Linked DNA regions of Homo sapiens: region 1 is linked to region 2. Evidence: fine-mapped expression QTL. A gene starts in region 2. The other region holds a variant in brackets. All regions are shown on one strand. Distances are from middle to middle.

Region 1 (13,250 bases), 18 kb before region 2:
ATTTTGGGTATCACTCCATATACTCTGGCAAGGGCATCTTTAAAATCTGCAACCTGATTTTAAATACAAGTGTATTAGAAATTAAACTTCAACAGAAAAGATCTGACAGTTCTGGACTATCCTGAGCGCAACAGTGGCAGGGTCCTGGTCTCCCTTGGCTGGCAGGGACAGGACCCAGCACAGGTGTGAGAATGATGCCCCCACCTCCACCAGCGAAGCAGAGGATGCTGTCAACCTGGGCTTCATCCCCAGACCACAAGCCGCTCGCTGCGGCTCTGTTTTCCTCTCTGCTCCTGTTTCTCTGGAGAGCAGAGCTCTCCTCCTCCCAGTGTCTTTCTGGGCCCCGAGCTGTCTCACCTGAAACGCCACCTGCCACAGCCACCCTCATCCACCAACAACTACTCTGCCTTTCGCGGCCCATAAAGCTTTCTCAGCCCTGTCCACTCTGAAGTATCTCTCTCTCCCGACCCCCTCCCCACGGTGGACACATTCTCCTTCACAGAAGAAAGGCCCTGGGACCCCTCAGCTACCGGTCCCGAAACTGCAAACCTAGACCCCCCTGTGCTCCAACCTCCTCTTGGATGAGGGGCCTCCTCCTCGCTCTACTGAGGGAGTCCTCCCCCACTGCTTCTGCCTCGTGCCTTCTGACTCAAACCTCCTAGGAGGACACCTGCATCCTCTCAGCCTCGTACTCTGGCTTTGGGGGGCACCAAGCTGGGGTCACCAGCTCCAGCAGATGCCTTTTGCCCCTTGCCTCAGACACTGTCCACTCCTTCCACGAAGCTCTCCTGTGGGCCTCCTGAGCACCTGCTCCACTGACCGCCTGGCTGCCGGCTGCCATTCCTGCCCCATCTCCTTGGCCTCCTTCTTCTCCTTCACTTATGGCGAGTTTTCACTGCCTTCCATTGGAAGCTATCTTTTCCACCCCATGGCTTCCCTCCCATCCAGACCTCTCTTCCTGGACTCTGCAGAGAGCTCCAATTCGAACTGTCCATGCAGGGTCTGATCATCCTCCCCTCTTGCCAAGCTTCTGACACCAGCAAATGTCACTCCTATGGAGGCCTGAGGCAGGACCTCTGCCTCTCCCATCCCCCTGTCCCAAACGGCCAAGTCCAAGCTCCCCACACTATCCCTTCCTCTCCAGCTGCATAGCCATAGGCCCAGATTCCCCCAGCATGTGACCTACTCGGAGGGTCTCTGTGCCTAGCCTCTCCCCAGTACCACGGGGACAGCAACAAGCAAACACCCCGGCCTACTCAGAGCTCAGCGCTGCTGGAGGATGAGGTCCTCATGTCTATGGCTCCCACCCGGCCCCTTCCCAACCCTCCTGCTCTGCCCCTGAGCCCCCTCAAGAAGCAACTGGTCCCATATCTCCCAGCCCCCAGCCCCCAGCTCTGCTCCACTGAACCACTCCCCTCAGGGCCTGGGCAGGCTGCAGGCCTCCATCTCAGCAACGCATTTCCCAGGAAATGTCTGGGTCGGCAGCTCTCCTGGGTGCTCCCGCAGCCCTGATTTCCCCATAAAACAGATGAGTGGATACGTGGCTGGATGCTGGATGCAAAAGCAACAAATTTCTCCTGATGATAAATCAAACTCCTTTCAAAGGACAGGACTCCGAGTATCCACCGTGCTGTTTCTGATGCCCAAACAAGCGCCGTTCGCACCTGGAAGCAGCTCAGCAAATGTGTGGCCCCTGTGGCTTTTGCCACCCCTGTAATCAGTTCCCTGAACACCGAGCTCTGGGCAAACATGGCAGGCACATGTCCCTCATCTATTCGCACATGAGTCCAGGTGAGGACGGTGAGGGCCCTGCAAGCGATCATCTTACGGCTTCCTGGGGTTGGGGTTGAGGGGGAGTCTGGAAAGGGCTGGTAGACTCCTTCCTCAAGTCCACTGCTCCCCACACTCTGGAAAAATGGCTGCACAGGTAAGCAGACACCATGAGAGCAAAGACACTGTTGCCAATTTATTTCACAAACAGTCAAGATACCAAAATAATTGTTCAACATCCAGCCATCGCCCCAGAACTACTAAGATCAGTGACTTTCAACCTTTTTCTAAATCCACAACCTGTGATAAATACGAAAACTATCTCAAAGAATCTGATACCTTTCTCTAAGGCAAGAGTCTGCAAACATTTTCCGTAAAGGTCCACGTCGTAAATATCCCGGGATTTGTGGATGACACATCGGTCCCTACTGCAGCTACACCATGGGAGCACAAGCATCCCCAGGTAACAAAGGAGTACAATTTTGTTTACAAAAACAGGCAACCAAGAGTTGAAAACAACTACTTTTTCTTTTTTTTTTAAAGAGACGTGATCTGGCTGTCGCCCAGACTGGAGTGCAGTGGGGCGACCATGGCTCACTGCAGCCTCAAATTCCTGGGCGCAGGCAATCCTCTGACCTTAGCTTCCTGAATAGCTGAGACCACAGACACATACTATCATGCTCAGCTACTTTTACTTCTTTCTAGAGGTCTCACTCTGCTGCCCAGGCTGGTCTCGAAATTCTAGCCACAAGCAATCCTCCAGCCTGAGCCTCCCAAGGTCCTGGGATTTATAGGCGTGAGTCACCACACCTGGCAAAAAGCAACTTTTTGTATATGCTTACCAGCTAATAACATCTTGTCATGCTTAAATATCTATAGTTTCTTTTATCATAAAACAAATCACAATTTTATCATGAAAACAAACCACAAACAAATATAAGACTACGTTATAAAAGTGAATGTGACTCTTGAAACTGCAGATTCCACCTGCTCTGCCGGACCCTGGAGCACACACTTCTCACAAAGGGAGCCATGAAATCTGTGCTTCCAAATCACTGGTCTAAGCAGCCTTCAGCTCCTACTCAACATGCGCAGGAAAATAAAATGCAAATAAAATCTGTTCACATGATAACATTTAAGTAGGAAGGGGGTTTGCACTGGGGCAATTTACAGCCCATTGACTCAGAGGCTGAAACGGCCCTACTGGAGGTCCCCGGGAGAGACACACGAGAAAAGAAGCAAAAGCAAGACTTACTTGGTAGTAATTGATGGATGGTTTTATCCCCAATTTTAGAAGCACACTAAAATTTAAATTTAAAAAAGTTAGCTGTATAATGAAGGTCCACTTTGCTTTCTTGTTCTTTTCAGGTATCATATTTCATGGTAAAAATTAAGACACTCTTAAAGGAAAGTGTTTTCTATGACTTTATGCAACAAATGTGTCAACATGGACTGCAAATACATGGTTCCCAGTCCCCGCCTTCCCCACCCCTTAGCACACACACAAACTGCTCCAGGCAGGTACCCTTTCCAGTTCCTGACTCCTTCGGAGCATGGGAGCGCTGGGGCCACCACCGAGTGGAGCTGGCACACACATCACCACCCGTTTGCCACACCTGCTTTAAAAGACAGCAATTGAAATCGGATTCCAGGCTTATCCTGGTAAACTGCATTTGGACAAATCTTTAAACACAGTCATGCGCCACATTACGACATTCAGTCAGTGAAGGCCTGCATGTACGAGGGCGGTCCCATATGACCACATTTCTACTGTGCCTTTTCTATGTTGAGATATGTTTAGATACACAAATCCTTACCATTGTGTTACATACAGGTGCCTACAGTACTCAGTAGAGTCACACACTGTACAGGTTTGTAGCCTCGAAGCAACAGGCTATACCACAAAGCATATGTGTGTCGTGGGCTGTATCAGCTAAGTAAGTGCACTCCAAGATGTTCACATGACAATTTTATACCCCATCACCAAGCAATACATAACCGTATGGTAAGTCCCTACAGCTTTCAATCACCTCCTAAAGCACTTCTACACAGAATCCTACCAAACTACCATATATAGAATTCACTTATTAAA[G/T]TATAAAGGTACACTGTAAAATTCTGAATCATTGCAGAAGAATATCCTAGTTCCCCATCAAGCCTTGGTAGAAAATTCTAGATCACGATCACAGAGTGGACACAAAGACTTAGACATCCTCTGTGGGCAATAACTTATTGTCAGACTGTCTTGGCCACAGAGTTCCTGGAACAAGGACCGAGATGCCGGACCAGGGTCCTTTCAGCCCCATCATGGCCCGAACCCACAGGACCTCGCCTACCCTAGCTGTTGGTGTTGTATGAATAACAGGTTTCAGACTTTGCAGTTAAAAAAAAAAAATGTAAACTAGCTTATTAATTTTTTAATATTTATCCTAAGTTTCGATGATCCTATTTTTGATATATTGAGTTTAATAAAATATTTTTGAAATTAATTTAACCTGTTTCTTTTTGCTCCTTTTAATGATGCTACTAGAAAATTTAAAATGACATCTGTGGCTCGTGTTACACGTCTATTGGGTAGCATGCTCCTGACTTGGGTGATCAAGGGAATACGGCAAAGAGAGAAAGATGTGGGGAAATGCAGCACCTAACCCAGCATCATGCTTTCTGCTGAGTTGAGATGAGCTTGGCACGCATCCCAGGTCTTTATCTGTGGGTACTCTAGCACGTGCCATCAGCTCATCTGTGTCTATGGGAACCCTGACAACTTTGCTTCAAGATGATTTGTGGTTTTTCAGGTTTGCTGCCTTCATATTATGAAGTGAAGAAAAACAAGCTACAATTTTTTATTCTATTTTATTTTTTTGACACAGAGTCTTGCTCTGTGGCCCAGGCTGGACTGCAGTGGTGCGATCTCGACTCACTGCAACCTCCGCCTCCTGGTTTCAAGAGATTCTCCTGCCTCAGCCTCCTGAGTAGCTAGGATTACGTGCACCACCATGCCCAGCTAATTTTTGTATTTTTAGTAGAGACGGGGGTTTCACCATGTTGGCCAGGCTGTTCATGAACTCCTGACCTCATGATCCACCCGCCTTGGCCTCCCAAAGTGTTGGGATTACAGGCGTGAACCACTGTGCCCAGCCTGTTCCAGTTTATGATAATTTGAAAAGCCAACCTATGAGAAAAAGATAATTTGTGATACCAGTTTACAAGGAAAAATGAGGGGTCTTAAATTTTGACTTCTTAATTTAATTTTTAGATTAAAATGAAGGCACTAAGAATTATAGATTTCCCTTGGAGAAACTAAGAATATAATTTTCCTATAATTGTTCTTTATAGGTTTTAGCAAACATACTCTCAGTAGTGCTTTGCCCTGGCAGGCCCTCAGTGAACATTTACTGAATGAATGAATGAATGAATGAATGGAGGACGCACCATTCCCATCTACAGCAATGGCAGGGCAGCACTGGGCTCTGCTGAATCCCCACAGGAACTCCAGGACTTAGAGTTTTGCATGTGTCGTGTGTGTGTGTGTGTGTGTGTGTCTCAGTCTGTCTAGTGTCGCTATACAGGAATACCTGAGGCTGGGTAATTTATTTAAAAAAAGAGGTTTTTTTGGCTCAGGGGTCTGCAGGCTGTCCGAGAAGCATGGAACCAGATTCTGCTTCTGGCAAGGGCCTCAGGAAACTTCCGCTCATGGCAGAAGGCAAAGGGGAGCTGGTGTGTACAGAGATCACATGGCCAGAGAGGAAGCCAGGGGTTGGGGGCGGTGCCAGGCTCCTGTTAACAACCAGCTCTCTGGGGAACTGAGTGGGAACTCGCTCACCCCTGCAAGGGGGCATTAACCTACTCATGAGGGATCCTTCCCCGCAGCTCAAACACCTCCCACCTCCACACTGGTGATCAAATTTCAACATGAGATTTGGTGGGGATAAACCAACCACATCCAAACCATAGCAGGAAAGCTACTGAGTTTCAACGAGTGTAAGTAGGAGCCACTTAATAAACTATTTGTTGGATACAGAGATGAATTATTTAGATGATTGATTTTAAAATTTTCAGTAGTATCCATTTATCCTTTCTCTGTTTGATTAAATGAACTGGTTTATGGAGTCAGCCTGGAAAACACCAGCACTCTGCAGCAGGGTCAGGACTGTGAGACCCCTGTTTTGAAACAGAGGGCATCTTTCTTGTCATCTCCAAAGTGGGTCCTACCCTGCCAGTCTTTCAGCAATGTCAGACTTTCTTTTTAACTGCAAGTCTCCTGTGCTCCAGGAGCTACCTAAGACACTCTCTTGGTTAATCCTCATAATGACTTTTTTTTTTGAGACAGTTTTGCTCTTTTCGCACAGGCTGGAGTGCAATGGCACGATCTCAGCTCACTGCAACCTCCACCTCCTGGGTTCAAGCCATTCTCCTGCTTCAGCCTCCCGAGTAGCTGGAATTACAGGCATGCACCACCACACCTGGCTAATTTTTGTATTTTTAGTAGAGATGGGATTTCACCATGTTGGCCAAGCTGGTCTTGAACTCCTGACCTCTGGTGATGCACCCACCTCAGCCTCCCAAAGTGCTGGGATTACATGCATGAGCCACCACACATGGCCCATAATGATTTCTGAACAGCTAATTAGCTACATTTGTTAGGTGAGAAAATGTTTCCTAAAATATTGCTCTTACTGCAAGAAAGCAATGCTTCCTTTATTAAAAACCTAAGATTAAATTACATAGATCAAATTATATACACAAACTATATACAAATCAAAGTGTATAGGTCTGTGTACGTTTCTTAGTGTATATACCTGGTAGTGCAGATTTTAAGAGCTGGAAGAGACTTCAGGGTTGAGGGCAACCTATCCATTTATTTCACAGCATGGAAAAAAGAGCTAGAGGTTAGATACACAAATTGTACAACTAGTTAGTGTCAGAACCAGGATGAAAAGGCACACCTAATGCCACGCGCTCTGGGAGGTGATTTTTAAAGAAGTTTATTCACAGGGCATTCTTTGATGTAATCTTGATCCCCGCTAACCGTGCCAAGCCCCTCTTCTATCAGTGCCTGAGCTCTATCCCACCCAAGTTGCAGCTGTTAGACTGCGTTTCATCAGATGACACAGGAGACCATCTGTGTGAGACGATTTTGTACGTTGAGGAGGCAAAGCACATGTCTAGATAAGCAATGGAGGTTTATTCATCTTTTAAGCAGTTTTGATTCAGAAACCTTAAATACAGCTGATTAGCTAAGGCTCCTGGTATTATTCTGATTTGAAGGAGAATTGCTCTAAAACAAGCTGCGTGAATTCCAAAAGCAGCAACACAGAGGCTGTGCAATTGCCTGTCATGTTTTTCACGACTTCACTGGTTTATTATGACCTCTTATGATGAAGGTCAGTGAGAGCAGCTAAGACGCTGACACCCTGAAACGTCCCGACGGAGAGGTAAGGGCACACCCTGGCTCTCTAGCAACCAGATTCGGACAGTGAGTGGGCTCGGTGTGGCGCTCAGAAGGCACTTTGCTTTACAAGTCAACTGGCTCAAGTGGGACAACGTATTCCACTTCTCAAGAATAGAGGTGAGGGCAGGCAGGGACGATTTAGGCAGGTTGGGGTCATTTCTGGGGCTTAAAGAACCCTGGCCCACATCTCTTTCCTGCCTGCTTGTTCCAGGAGTTCTGCGGCAAAGACCTACAGACTTCCAGAGTTTCCGTCTTTCTAAGGAAACGACTTATTAATGCACTATCCTTTATCAGGAATCATGGCTGAGAACGGCACATGCTGGTTGGAGTCCTCGTTTTCCCTATGGCCGACTCTGATGATGAGATGGTGCCCAGATGGGCATCCCAATACTCTGCACCCACTCTGTGTGATCGTGATGTAGAATGATCTGGAAAGGCTTGGTAGGCTCAGAACATTCCTCAGGAATGATCCCAGTAGCCGAATAGTGCACATGCAGAAGCTGCTGGAGGGCAGTGAGGTCTACACCCACTCCCCTGGATCCAGCTGTCAGGCTTGGGCGACAGCAGAGATCCCCACTGGGAAGTGCAGCCGGGGGAAGGGCGCACCCACCTGTTGAGGTCCAGCTCCCTGTAGAGTTCCAGGCTTCTGCCAAAGTACTTCTTCTGGGAGTTGAGCGCATCCACCTGGGCGGCGCAGGTCCCATGCTTTTCCCACTCATGCTTCCTGTGAGGATTAGGAAAAATCTCCACTTAAAAGTAGTGAAACAGGCTGCGTGCAGTGGCTCATGCCTGTAATCCCAACACTTTGGGAGGCTGAAGGGGGTGGATCACCTGAGATCAGGAGTTTGAGACCAGCCTGACCAACATGGTGAAACTGTCTCTACTAAAAATACAAAAAAATTAGCCGAGTGTGGTGGCAGGTGCCTGAGATCCCAGCTACTCAGGAGGCTGAGGAGGAGAATCGCTTGAACCCGGGAGGCAGAGGTTGCAGTGAGCCAAGATCATGCCATTGCACTATAGCCTGGGCAAGAGACAAACTCCATCTCAAAAAAAAAGTAATGAAACTGATTCCCAATTAAAATGCTCAAGCATGTTTTCTCTCAGCACAGACTATTCCCATGTGGTAGGCATGTCATTTCTTTTACAAAGTAGGAAGGATAAAATTCCTTATTTGCAACATAGGCAATTATTTCAATCCCCCACGATTAAATAATCAGTTTCAGTTCACGTCTACAATTACAGCTTGCTCAATTAACAACAAATCAAAGCTGAGAAAAAAGAACATGCTGCTGCCCCAACCCCCACTGATTCACAAAGCAACGTGTGGTCTCCTGCAGTGAGTGGGTGCTTTGCAGTCAGGGAATTTCGCAGAGTGGCACAAACTGTCATTTCTAAGCAACCAGCCATGGAAAGGCAGGACAGCTAATTACCAGGAAACACCTCAGGCCCATTTTCCATTTCAGCTTCTACAAATTATAGTTTAAGCATCCATTCTACATAGAGGACAATAAGAACAACTGAATAGCCTATAACTAAAGGGCTGCACGTGAACAGCAATTTGTATTCCAGAAAAATGTGGTCACTGAGAATGATTCCTGATATTTTACTGCAGATTAAAGGTTTACAAAAATCTTTCACGTTCTTCGTTTGGTTCTCAAAACTCTGCAAGGCGGAAATATCACTGCTAGTTTACAGACAGGGAATGGAAGCCCAGAAGGGCCAGGGGACTTGCTGAAGGTCACTCAGAGCCTGCCCTTGAAGGCCACGCTCAAGTCCAAGGTCAGCGCCCTTCCCACTGCACTGGGCTGTCATCCAATCAACTGCTGACGAGATTGACAGCCACCTTCAGAATGACTGGCGTGTCATCAGATGTTTATCATCTTTAGCATGAAAAGACAAAATGGGAATCAGATTTCCTCAGCTTTATTGGTGATGAATTCATGAAGTTTTAATAAATAACATTCATGCAACCACTTATAAAGCACTTATATGCAGTCTTAAAAACACAATCTAAATGTGCATTAATTCACTGGCAAAATTCATCCAAAATACTAGTTTTAAATAATTCCTATTGATTTAACTCTCAGAAAATGATGAAAAGTTGAAAACAGGAACGATGAAAGTGGATGAGTAACTGTCTTCATCTAGAAGCCTTTCCAGAGCAAATTACCTGATAACTTCCTATATCCTATAAGGTAGAAAAAGGAGATTATTTTAAACTAATTGAAATGTAACCTGAATTCCAGGTGACTTAGTTTCTATAAAACAGGGGTAATTCTGCAGGTGAGATGAGGTGTGCTGAGCCCTTCCACATGAATGAAAACAGTTCCTGGCTCACAATAAACAGTAAATGTCAGCCATCATTATTCCTGGAGCAAGCTTAACTCAACAGATGTTGGAAATAGATTGATATTCATGGAGCTCACAGCATTCACTCACACTTCATTTGGACTGGACCTTTTTTTTTTAAGCATCAGAACGGTCAGTCACCAATGCGAAGTGACTCAGCGTGTTGCCCTCTGTGCTGAGAGACACCCTGACTCACCCACCAAGAGCAGATGCAGCCAGGAGCGGATGTCCCAGGCTCACCCACCCACTGTCACCCAGCCCGCTCGGCCACAACAGGCAGCCAGTCCTCGGGGCTGGTTATGCCCAAAGACACATTCCACAGCAGTGCTGTGACACCTTCCCCTGCCCAAGGAGCAGAGGTGGAGAAGCCAGAGGCCAACCCCCATGGAGTTAGTCAGGTGACTTGAGTGATAGGCACAGGACTGGGTGACACAGCCCAGACAGGAGCTCCTCCCTAGCTGATATTTTGTATTTAGGAGCACTCAAAAATATAAATATTAATTTGTGTGTGAGATTTATCTTTTTCATTTAGAACCAGTTTTTTAAGTGTGTAATTCAACTATCAACCTGAAAATTTAAAGTAAGTCATCTTGCCTTTATCAGAGCCCAAAAATAAATGCATACTGTGCCCACACTGTTTTGATTAAATGCTCAAGACCCAGCTCACTGAAGGCCTTTGCATGTTTGCTGATTTATTTTAAGCCATTTAGCTAAAATCTGACAGACTCTATCATGGAACATTGTAACAACTGGAAAAATTCTCTTTCACATAACTCAGTTACCATAAACTCATCATCTGAAGTACACTGTGAAGTGACATATAATTTTTTTTCCTATCTTCTTCCATTCCAACTTATCATGGCCATTATTTTGAAATAATTTTCTAGAACACAGGCTGTGCAGAACAGGTGACTGAGACCTGAACCATTCACCACCCGAATTTTCAAGGGTGATTCAACGCACAGACTGAGGGTCCATGAATCCTAAGGCCACTTCACTGCCACACCGATGAACCAGAAAGGGGGACATCACTTCCATTTCATTTTGTTTTCAAAAGCTTTCTTCTAAACTTAACTTTTAATTTTCCTGAAAATTATACACAAAAATATTTCTAGGTTAATCTTCCCACCTAAAATTTGATGGGTTGTAATCTGAATTATAAATTGCAATATTGAAGTGGGATAGAGAAAATAATTACCTTCAGTTAATATAATGTTAATACAAGGAATTTAACTTTATGTTCTTAAAAAAGCCAGGATTTTAAAAGCTATCTTGAATTCAACATGGCGTTTATGCCCTAGGCTTAGCTTCTGCTGAACTTAAAGGTGCTTCACTATGACTGAGGTCTCAGCCTCACATGCTAAGTCTCACTTTCTCTCCTCCCTAAGTCATAGGCATGAGATCATCATTTTAGAAGACATCTTCTTTTTTTTTTTTGAGATGGAATCTTGCCCTGTTGCCCGGGCTGGAGTACAGTGGTGCAATCTCGGCTCACTGCAACCTCCATCCCCTGAATTCAATTGATTCTCCTGCCTCAGCCTCCCAAGTAGCTGGGATTACAAGCGTACGCCATCATGCCCAGCTAATTTTTGTATTTTTAGTAGAGATGGGGTTTTGCCATGTTGGCCAGGCTGGTCTCGAACTCCTGACCTCAAGTGATCCACCTGCCTTGGCCTTCCAAAGTGCTGGGATTACAGGTGTGAACCACTGTGCCTGGTCTCTTTTTTCTTAATGTATTTGAAGACAGGAGCACAATTTCCTTAAGAAATATTCTCTCCTGTCTGATATGGACTAATTCTTAGATATGCAAGCATTGGACTTTGTTAAGCCTCAGAAGAGAAAATTTGTATCTTTATTTTGTTTTTGAGACAGGGTCTCACCCTGTCACCTAGGCTAGTTATCACCCCAGCTGATCACAGCTCATTGCAACCTTGATCTCCCGGGACCACAGCCGCACAATACCACATCTAGCTGACCTTTTAAATTTTTGGTAGAGGTGGCATTTTGTCATGTTACCAGGCTGGTCTCAAACTCCTCAGCTCAAGCAATCCACCCGCCTCAGCCTCCCAAAGTGCTAGGATTACAGGCACGAGCCATTGTGACTGGCCGAGAAAAGTTTTAAAGCAAAGTAATAAATACCATACAGGTTAGAAAACAGGCTTATATGGTAAATTCCACTTGCTTTCAATTTTTTATACATTGGAGAAAGGCACCAAAAATGCCGTAACAGAATCATATCTCATAAAAGGTTGTTCAAACTGCTCAGCCCCAGAAGACAGATTCTGTTATCTTGCTTCCCACACAGTTTCCACTTCTAGCGATTCATCACGCTCCCCACACCCGCTCAGACAGTAATCAAGACAGCAATCAGAGGCTGGGACTTACCAGAAGCGGCTGCGATTGGGAAACGAGTGAATTACGTCAGGCCAGTATGCCCTCATTTCTGGCAAAAGATCCTATGCATTAAAAAATAAAATAAGTCTACGCAGGTTCTTAATAATAAACTCAAAACCTAGAAGGTAAATTTGATAAACTGACACCAAAGAATTGAGCTCTGCTAATTAACAATACTTTGGTGAATAAAATAATCCTATGCTTATTTTGTATGAAGTGTTTGTTAAGATATATCTACAAGTGCAATTTGAGTAATCATAAAACTGCACACGAAAATACAAGCTGTTATAGGTGAAGGGATAAAGTGTACATCCAAACAATGGAATATTTTCAGCAACAAAAACCAATGAGCCGTCGAGTCATGAAAAGACACTGGAGGAACTGCAAACATACATTGCTAAGTGCAAGAAGCCAGTCTGCAGAGGCTACATACTGTATGATTCCAACGACGTGACAATTTGGAAAAGGTAGTCTTAAGAGACAGGAATGAGATTCGCGGTTGCTTGGGGGTTCAAGGGGAGGAAGAAGGGGAGGTATGGCTCAGGGGGTTTAGGGCCAGCGGCTGCTCCAGAGCACACTGGGTGGGACTTGCTCTCCTGCATTTGTCCAAAGCCGCACAACACAGGAGTAAACCCTAATGTTAATGCTAAACTTTATTTAATAATAAAGTATCAGTATCAGTTCATTAATTGTAACAAATGTAACACACTATAGAAGATGTTAATGATTGGGAGAGTTGAGGGGGAAGGGAGTGAACTGTCTGTAATCTCCATCCAATTTTTCTGTAAACCTATAACTGTTCTAAAAACATTGGCCGGGCACGGTGGCTCACGCCTGTAATCCCAGCACTTTCGGAGGCCGATGCGGGCGGATCACGAGGTCAGGAGATCGAGACCATCCTGGCCAACCTGGTGAAACCCTGTCTCTACTAAAAATACAAAAATTAGCTGGGCACGGTGCCACATGCCTGTAATCCCAGCTACTCAGGAGGCTGAGGCAGGAGAATCGCTTGAACCAGGGAGTCGGAGGTTGCAGTGAGCCGAGATTGCGCCACTGCACTCCAGCCTGGCGACAGAGTGAGACTCCATCTTAAAAAAAAACAAAACGAAACCATCAGTTAAAACAAACAAACAAACAAAGGACAAGCTCTCCTTTTCCCAGAGAAGAGCTTGTGTGAGCTGGGCAGCCTGGGCACCAGTCGCGCTAAATCCAACAGAACTGGAGTTTACTTTTCTATTTCTACACACCCTCTACACCAAAAAAACCCCAAAAAGGTCAGTAAAAAGGT
Region 2 (9,780 bases):
ACGAGAGATTGTAGAAATAAAGACACAAGACAAAGAGACAGAAGAAAAGACAGCTGGGCCCAGGGGACCACTACCACCAAGACGCGGAGACCAGTAGTGGCCCCGAATGCCTGGCTGCACTGTTGTTTATTGGATACAAGGCAAAAGGGGCAGGGTAAGGAGTGTGAGTCATCTCCAATGACTGATAAGGTCACGTGAGTCACGTGTCCACTGGACAGAGGGCCCTTCCCTGTATGGCAGCGGAGGCGGAGAGAGAGAGAGGCCAGCTTACGCCATTATTTCTTCTATGCATTTCAAAGACTTTTAGTACTTTCACTAATTCTGCTACTGCTATCTAGAAGGCAGAGCCAGGTGTACTGGGTGGAACATGAAAGTGAAACAGCAGTGTGACTGCTGAAGCACAGCATCACGGGGAGATGGTTAGGCCTCCAGATGGCTGTGGGCAGGCCTGACTGATATGAGGCCTATCCACAAGAGGTATGGTGAAGCAGAGTCTGCTCTAACTCCCTTTCCCAGTCTGCTGAGTAACGGGTGCCTTCCCTAGGCACTGACGCTACCACTAGACCGAGGTCAGCTAAGTAATGGTTGCCTTCCCAGGCACTGGTGTTACCACTAGACCAAAGAGCCCTCTAGTGGCCCTGTCCGGGCGTGACAGAGGCTCACACTTGTCTTCTGGTCACTTCTCACCGTGCCCCTTCAGCTCCTATCTCTGTATGGCCTGGTTTTTCCTAGGCTGTAATTGTAGAGCAAGGATTATTATAATATTGGAATAAAGAGCAATGCTACAAACTGATGATTAATAATATTCATATATCATCATATCTATAATCTATTTCTAGTATAACTGTTCTCATTTTATATATTTTCTTTATTATACTGGAACAGCTTATGCCCTCGGTCTCTTGCCTTGGCACCTGGGTGGCTTGCCGCCCACAGAGGGAGGAGACAAACTGAGGCTTGCTGTGGGTTGAACCGTGTCCTCCCAGAAGATATATCCCTGTCCTAACCCCTCCTCCCATCTGTGAACATGACCCTACATGGACACAGGGTCTTTGCAGATGTCATCAAGAAAAGGTGATACCAGATTAGGGTGGGCCCTAAATCCAATTACTGGTGTCCTCATCAGAAGAGACAGAGAGACACAAAGTGGAGAACACACCGTGAAGGAGAAGGCAGAGATTGGGGTGATGGGTCAGCCCAGGAACGCAGAGGACCACGGGTCCTTACTAGAAGCTAGCAGAGAAACAGAACAAACTCTCTCAGAGCCTTCCAGGAGGAACCAACCCTTCTGACCCCTAGGTTGAAACTTCCCCTTCCAGGACCGTGAGAATAAATTCCTGAGGCTCTCAGCCACCCAGCTTGTGGCACTTTTGTTACAGCAGCCCTGGGAAGCTCACACACAGCCCTCCTGGAGGCAGTCTCTGCAGGAGACACCGCCCACCCGCCAGAGCGATGCCTACCTCCCGCACCAGCAGCGTGGGTGCCCTGGACGGGCACGTGCACACAAACCCCTCTTCACAGGGCTCCCCAGGCCCCAGGGCCCGTCAAGGCAGAAACACTCACCTCGCATACTGTCTCAGGCCAGTGCTGAACCATAATTAGTTTTTTCCACTCATGGTTGTCACTGTTAAAACATAAGAAACTTATTTTTCAAGAACTTTTTTTAAAGTTACAGAAAAAATTCATCCACCCATCCATCCCTTCAATCATTCATTCAGCACTGAGTGCTGTGGGAGGAGGAACACTGCCTGCCCTGCTGCTGCACACACTCCCGTGAGGAAGGCGGTACACCCCTACACTAAGAAGGCACGTGTGGTGGCGTCCAGTGCTGAGTGGCGGAGAACATGAATAGGATAAGGGGAGGAGGGGAGAGGAGGGGAAGCGGAGGCAGGGCAAGCTAGGAGTGCAGCCAGGGAGGGCCTCACTGAAGGGAAGCCACTGAGCCACGAAGCACCTTTCTCCTAAGGATGCTCAAGAGAAATGCAGACCCACGATCCCTCCCCTGCATTCGTGAAACCCATAAAAGCCTGAAACCTGGTAGTTTTTTGTAATTCATTTGGCAACAAAACATAACCTGAACTAGCATAACGCTATTTATCGTTACTACCCCAACTCAGTTTTTAGACTTCACTTGCTTCTCTGCAGAATTTGTGTCATTTGATTTTAGGGTGCTACTTCAGATGCCACCAGGACTGTTAACTTGAACACGGTATGTGCACTGCATCATGAATGTTATTCACGACATGGTATGCACACAGCACTGCATCACACGTGTTACCCAGAACCTGGGGCCACACTGGATCACAAACCTGAACACCGTGAAACTCATCTGACTCTAAGACTTCAAAGAAGCCACTGTGGAGCGGCAGCTTATTCATGGCAGTAGGCCTCTAGCCAGAACTGCAAGACTTAACGAGACTGAAGTAAAAAGAGCAGCTTGCAAAAAATGCACATGGAAAAAGCCAGCAGCAACACAGGATATAAGTCAAGCAGACACTTCAGGATAAATCAAATTTTAGAAGGGAAGATTCCAAGTAAGAAGATCAAGTTGTCACACATTAGCTTTTGTAAATAATTGAGTCCTGTTGAATTTGTATAGAATTTACAGTTAAGATGGTATGAAAACTTAGTTGTACATTGGAACTAATTATGCAAGCTCTCAGTATAAAAGGAAAAAAGGGTTCAAGCGTGGTGGCTCACACCTATAATCCCAGCACTTTGGGAGGCAGAGGCAGGAGGATTGCTTGAGCTCAGGAGTTCAAGACCAGCCTGGGCAACATGGTGAAACCCTGTCTCTACAAAAATTAGCCAGGTGTGGTGGCATGAACCTGTAGTCCCAGCTACTTGGAAGGCGCTGAGGCAAGAGGATAGCTTAAGCCCAGGAGGTGGAAGATGCAGTGAGCCCAGATCACATCACTGCACTCCAACCTGGGCTACACAGCCAGACCCTGTCTCAAAAAAAAAAAAAAAGGATGAGCTGCAGGGTGAGAATTGGAGCTGGTAAAGCATTTTTTACCCTTGGGTGAAAAACCTTATTTTACATAGTCGGAACCTGAGGCTGGAAAGCTTAGCAACACCCAGGAAGATGAGACTATCAATATGCTTACAACAAAACTACCAAGACTCAGACGTTTGTAACAAACTCTCCATCTAAAACCAGGCAGAGTGATGTGACTGCAGGAGACCCCCTCCCACACAGATGCCCCCCTCCCCTATTCACGGAGAAAGTAATGGAGAAGCTAAAGAAAGTCAAAGAAGAAAGAAAAATCACCAAGGTCTCAAAACCAGTTAGAACTTGGGAAAATGCCCGCTGACCTATGAAGCCCTCGTGGTCTGAATCAACCATGTTCTCGCAAATCTTGCCTGCTCAAGTTTGTCCGATCATATCAGTTGCATGAATTATGGGCTGGGGTGGGGGATCCACATATGACAGCCTGTTTTATGCTAATGTTTACTTCCAGCCAGACATCATTCCAAGTTACATTCTGTACCTTAACTGATTTCTCCTGAAGCCAACTCTGTGAGGCTGACTGTTACTATTTCTACTTTACAGATGAGGAAACTGGGGCATAGAGAGCTCAAAGGTCCCACACCTGGGTGTGAACTAGCAGTTTCCACTCAGCCAGCAAGGGCCAGCATGCCACAGACTTCCCCAGTGAGAGGCTCTGAACCTCATGGCCAATAAATAAGGACATAAATGTAGCTCTTTTTCAGAAAATACACTTTCCGGAACACTGAAATATAATGCTACATTTTAATGTACATGATTAAAAATATATACCTAAGGTGTTTAAAAAGTAAAACCCTGGCCGGGTGCAGTGGCTCACGCCTGTAATCCCAGCACTTTGGGAGGCCGAGGCGGGCGGATCACCTGAGGTCAGAAGTTCGAGACCAGCCTGGCTATTAAAAATACAAAAATTAGCCAGGCGTGGTGGTGTGCATCTGTAATCCCACCTACTCAGAGGCTGAGGCAGGAGAATCGCTTGAACCCGGGAGGTGGAGGTTGCAGTGAGCTGAGGTCACGCCACTGTACTCCAGCCTGAGTGACAGAGTAAGACTGTCTAAAAAAAAATAAATAAGTAAAACCCACCTTTTCCACACCTACTATGTAAGTAAGAAATCCTATTAACCCGATCATTACCCAAATAGAAAGAAATAATATGGTATTCAAATATTGGTATCTTCCACAGAATTAAAGTTGGAGTTCTTTGCAGCACCGCCTGTTTACCCCTAATTAATTTGGGCGGCTGCCACACACACACACGCACACACGCACGCACACACGCACGCACACACGCGCACACACGCACGCACGCACACACACGCACACACGCACACACACACACGCGCACACACGACACACACGCACAGACGCGCACACACGACACACACGCACACACACGCACGCACGCACACGCACACGCACGCACACACACACGCACACACAAACGCACACGCACACACACACACGCGCACACACACACGCGCACACACACACACACGCGGAGGGCGAGCCAAGGGAAGGGATTCAGAACAGGATACTCAAAAAGAGGAAGAACCGTCGTTTCACCACCCGCCGCAGTGAAAGCTGAAATTAAGTGTCCCCTCCACGACTTCTTCGACCTCTGAGAGAACTTCGAGTGCAGGAACAGTGCTCCACCAAGCCTGCCACCTGCTTTGTCGCGTCCTAGGCTGGGAGCAGTCTGTGGGATGAGTTTCCAGTCCAGCTCCAGGCTGGAGTGTACCCAGGACCTCACCCTACCCCCTACTCCTTCCCAGGGGTCACCCCGGGGAGTGTTCAGGGCTCCCCAACCCACTTCTTCCCAGGAGTCACCCCAGAGCGTGCCCAGGGCTCCCCCCAACCCACTCCTTCCCAGAGGTCACCCCGGGGCGTGCTCAGGACTCCCCTCATCGCACTCCTTCCCAGAGGTCACTTCTGAGTGTGCTAAGGGCTCCCCCCAACCCACTCCCTCCAGGGGTCACCCCGAGGCGTGCTCAACTTCCCAACTTCTTCCCAGGGGTCACCCCGGAGCGTGCTCGGCTCCCCCCGCCCTCCCCAGTCGCTGCCCGGGGCTCAGCGACCGCCGACCCCGAGAGCTGCAGCCTTCACCCAGTGGAAAGCTCTAGGGCCCGGCTCCCACGCTCCCCACTTTACCTCGCAAGGTAACTCACCGCAGGCGCTTGTCCGCACCGCCCAGGCAAAGCAACGCCAGGCAGAGGCAGCCCAGCAGGGCCCCGCGCAGGGCTGCAGGGCGCATGGTGCCGACCTGCGGAGAGAACGCTGCCAGCTGCCGCTCCGGCTCCCACTTCCCACCTGCTGCCCGAGGAAGACTTCCGGGAGAAACGCTGTCTCCGAGCCCCCGCGCCGCCGCGCTCCCTCCGCTGCAGCAGCGGCCACCGGGTGCGCCCGGAGCCCTGGGACGGCCTAAACCAGTATCTCGCGGGCCCCGCGCCGGGCTCCGGGAATGGCCGCAGCAGCCCTGGCGACCCGGGCCCCTCGGAGCTCCCCTTCAGGATCGTGCACCAAGCGCGCACGTCCCGGGCTCTGCTTCGCGACCCACAGCGACCCCAGCTCCTCCACGCTGCAGCCGCCGTCCGCCCACGACCACGGTCAGTCGCGTTGCTCCCAGCCCAGGGCGCCCTGCGGGCCTGCACCGGAGCAGAGAGCCACGCCCCCAGGACGGCACGCCCCCGCCGGTGGACACGCCCCCCAGAACGGCACGTCCCCGCCCGGCGTTCACGCCCCGCCCCGTGGTTGGCTCAGAGAGGCCGAGGCAGGAGCAGCTCCGCGGGCCTTGAGGGCGTGTCAGGCGGCTGTGTTCCTTCGCCACGCAGGCGCCCCGCGCCTTTTCCCGCAGCTCTGCGCCACTCCCACACTCCCGGGTCCGAGCTAACCTAGACCACCCGTGAGGACCGCCCTCGGGGGGACCGCCCGTGTCTGCGCCATCCCCCGCCAGCAAGTGGGCGTGCGGGCCCCAGGGCCACTCTACTCTCCAGGGACAGCCCCCAGCCCGACCCGCGCACCCTGCAGGCCCGCGGTCCGCACGCAGCACCCGCTTTCAAAAACTGCGCCCTGCAAGCTGCCCGGGAGCTCCTGACTGCAGATGGTGCTTGGCCGCCCAGGCTCCCCGCAGCCTCCCGCCACCTCGGCGCTCCACTGCGCAGCCCGAGGGACGGCTCCAGAATTAGGAGGGGACCTACTCGGGTCACTCTCCTGGAAACCTCTCCAGTCTCCCGGTGCTAGGTGCTGGGAGCACCAACATTCCTAGAAGGGCCTGGCCCTCACCCAGCCCTGGGCCTCACCTGCCCCTCCCCGCGGGCCCCAGGAGCCCGGAAGTCATCTCTGTGGGGGCAGCAAAGAGCCGCCTCGGGGCGCGACCTGGGAAGTCATCTTGTGAGGGATCCCCTCCCAGAGGGACGGGCCACCCCCCACGGATGAAGGGGACTTCATGTCAGCCCCACCTTGGCGTAGCCAGGGCCAGTCCCATAGGCCCGGTCTCCTCCCCCAACACCCTGGCCTTCCCAGCCCTTCAGAGGCACGGGTTCCCCTGCACCCGCGGCCCCGCCCACGGGCTGTGCACCCGGCATTGTCTCTGCAGATGTTTCTCCTCTTTCCCTTCCCTGTCCGCACACCCACAGCTAGTTAAGGCTATTCCTATTTACACGTCGAGTAAACTGCGCCTTCCTCGGGGTCCTCTGCCACTGGTAACTGTCTAAATAGCAGGTGGGCCTGTAGCCTGCTCTCCCACAGGCCTGGACCTTGCCTGCATGCATTACCATTCTTTGAAACAAAATATTTAAATGATTAATCTGTTTTTCCCACTAGACTGCAAGGCAAGGCCCATGTCTATTTTGCCCACCTTGAGTCCCTGCCACTGAGCACAGTGGATGGGGGACAGTCGGTGCTCAATAAAATGCCACCTGTGGAACAGATGGGGGGGGAAAATGGCTGACACCTCCTTAGCTCCTCCAGGACCTCCTACAGGTCATGGTGTTATTCTCGTTCTCCTTTTCCCTAACGACTTATTTGTTTCTTTCCGGCTCCTTTCATTCCTTCCTCTCAAGAATATAGGCACACGCCACAGTTCTTTTTCTCTTTTCTTTTAAGCTAAAAAAATAATTTTCTTAAAACAAAAGTGCTTCCCAGAATCCTCATTTTCCTTTAAATCACAGTCCGGTGTGTTTAAACAGCCCCTTGTCAAGGAGGGCTGTTGTGACCACTGCCAAATATAAAGCAAATCTGGACTCGGGGAGGAGTGGTGTTATGAGGACCATTATTGCAGGGGCCTGGGGGCCTTTTGTCCCTACTAAAAATACAAAAATTTGCTGGGCGGGGGTGGCACGCGACTGTAATCCTGTGGCAGGAGGAGCGGCAGACAAAACCTCTCAGACACCGAGCTATAGAAGGAAGGGCTTTATTCAGCTGGGAGCATCGGCAAGCTACTGCCTTAAAATCCGAGCTCCCCGAATGCACAATTTCTGTCCCTTTTAAGGGCTCACAACATTAAAGATTTCACATGAAAGGGTCGTGATTGATTTGAGCAAGCAAGGGGTACGTGACGGGCTGCATGCACTGGTGGTCAGAGAGAAACAGAACAGGGCAGGGAGTTTCACAATGTTCTTCTATACAATGTCTGGAATCTATGAATAACATCGGTCTCTAAGTCATGAGTTGATTTTTAACTACTAGGTTTAGGCCAGGCAGGCCCAGGTCCGGTTTTGGGCCTGGCGCCGGGCTGCCTGTCTTTGATTTCACTTCCTTGTTTTTTTCTTAAAACAGGTACTGAGTATAAAACAATATAAAACAATATGAGAGGGTCTCTCTCTTCCCTCAATCCCAGCTACTCTGGAGGCTGAGGCAGGAGAATCGCTTGAACCCAGGAGGCAGAGGTTGCAGTGAGCCGAGATCGCGCCACTGCACTCCAGCCTGGGCGACAGAGTGAGACTCGGTCAACAACAACAACAAAAAGAATGAATGAAAGAAAGAAGAAAGAGAGAAAAAGAAAGAGAGAGAAAGAATGAACTGGGAATGGAGAAGTGGGATGAGAACCTGCCTTCATAGGACATTAGATCAGAGAAGGTTGACCCCGTGGCCAGCCTGTTCTCAGGGGGGACTGACTCAGGCTAAGATGAGGCCAAAAGTCCTCAGCCTCGGGGGAAGAGAGGAGCCTCACCAAGTTTGCTTAACAAGTGTGTTATTTCTATTGACTGGCTCATCATTGATGAGGTGAAGAATGGGAATTGGAGGATCTGTGTCTGGCTTTGTCCTAGGTAATGGGTAGGGGGTGGAGTGAGGGGAGCATCCGTCACTTTTCCTTTTTTTTTTTTTTTTTTTGGAGACAGCGCCCAGCTGCATCACTTCTATCACTCTTACCTATGTTATGTGGGGAAGAAGGGGGTCTCTCGCAGCAAGCCACTTTCCACAACTCACAGAGAGGAGATTTTTATCAGATAAATTCAGCAGCGTCCTACCCAGCCTGAAGAAGCCACCCAGTCATTTCCTGTTGCACTTCCTTGTTTATTTTCGACACAGTTCTCCCCACCCCTGAGAATTCTTGTCACTTCCTCCTGTACTGCCCACTTCTACTCCCCCACCCCCACATCGGAAGCTAATGAGGAGCTTCAGGCCCCTTGCTGGCATGGGCCCCACCAAGACCCCATATCTCATTCCGTATTCACAATTTTACCTTCTTGTTCTTAAAGAAGGACATCCAAATGGAAAAGCTCTCAACCCCCCAAAACTTGGATGTGAACCTGGAGCATCTGTCATCTGTCTTGTTCACTACTTGTCCACCTACCAGGATCCTAAACGGAACCCTACGTAGGGAAGAGGCAGTGGCTGTAAAGGCTGGATTTGGGTCTGGAAGCCGCCCAGCTTTACGAAAACAAAGAGGGCTCCAGCATCAAGCAGGTGGGCAGGGGCCAGAGTGGGAATTACATTGACTCACACAACATAGTGTAAAAGGGTACAAACTATGAGGTTTAAAAGATGCTGCTGGCTTGTATAGAAACATGTCCTTAGGAGAGGGGAGGGGGACAGGATGGCAACAGCCATGTCTATGAACAGACATCCTTAAATCCTTGTTAATTCTGAAGAGACCAAGATACTTTCACCACACAACCTCTTCTTGGCATTAGCTCCAGGTTTCCTGTTTCCATGCCAGCTTTTGCTGGGTTATGCTACAATAATACACCGCCCCCAAATCTCAGTGTCTCACTTAAACGGAAGTTGATCATTTATCATTCATTTGCCCATATTCCATGCTGGCTATGCGTCAGATGCCACTGTGGTCCACGGTATTTTTCACTCTGGAACCCAGGCGGTAGGAACAGCCCATATCTGGTGCTGGCCATTCCAATGGCAGAGCAGTGGCACAACTACACAGTTTAGGATTCTCATGCTCTAAAGAGCTTTGTCACACTTGAAAGAATCTCACCTTAAAAACTCCTTTCCATCCTGAATTACTTATTTGCTGAGAAAGTGAGGCCAGCTGCTGGGTGTTTCCCTGCCCTTTCTCTTCTTTTTCTTTTTCTTTTTTTTTTTTTGAGACAGAGTCTCACTCTGTCAGCCAGGCTGGAGTGCAGTCAGTGGCACAATCTCGGCTCACAGCAACCTCCGTCTCCCAGGCTCAAACAATTCTCCTGCCCTAGCCTCCCGAGTAGCTGGGATTACAGGCGTGTGCCACCACGTCCGGCTAATTTTTGTGTTTTTAGTAGAGACGGAGTTTGACCATGTTGGTCAGGGTGTCCCAGCACCTCTGGCCTTGCCATGCCAGCCTG

What was found.
Region 1: its variant is fine-mapped to the expression of RNASET2 in whole blood (GTEx, PIP 0.96).

The regions. Positions count from the first base shown.
Region 1 is chr6:166,931,066-166,944,315 of GRCh38, forward strand. It overlaps RNASET2 (ribonuclease T2), which reads right to left. Exons shown (of 9, transcript NM_003730.6): 5 at 11,954-12,024; 6 at 7,830-7,943; 7 at 3,026-3,071; 8 at 1-53. It also overlaps the pseudogene LOC105378119. Among named protein-coding and RNA genes, the nearest start is that of RNASET2, 19 kb to the right of the region's middle. RefSeq lists an enhancer at 9,830-10,330. The variant G/T (reference allele first, on the strand shown) is at 3,863.
Region 2 is chr6:166,950,925-166,960,704 of GRCh38, forward strand. RNASET2 (ribonuclease T2) reads right to left here and starts at 5,626. Exons shown (of 9, transcript NM_003730.6): 1 at 5,173-5,626; 2 at 1,564-1,624. The coding sequence starts at 5,258. RefSeq lists enhancers at 1-517, 1-676, 7,576-7,695, silencers at 5,392-6,151, 6,192-6,291, 6,562-6,611 and a cis regulatory region at 8,376-8,662.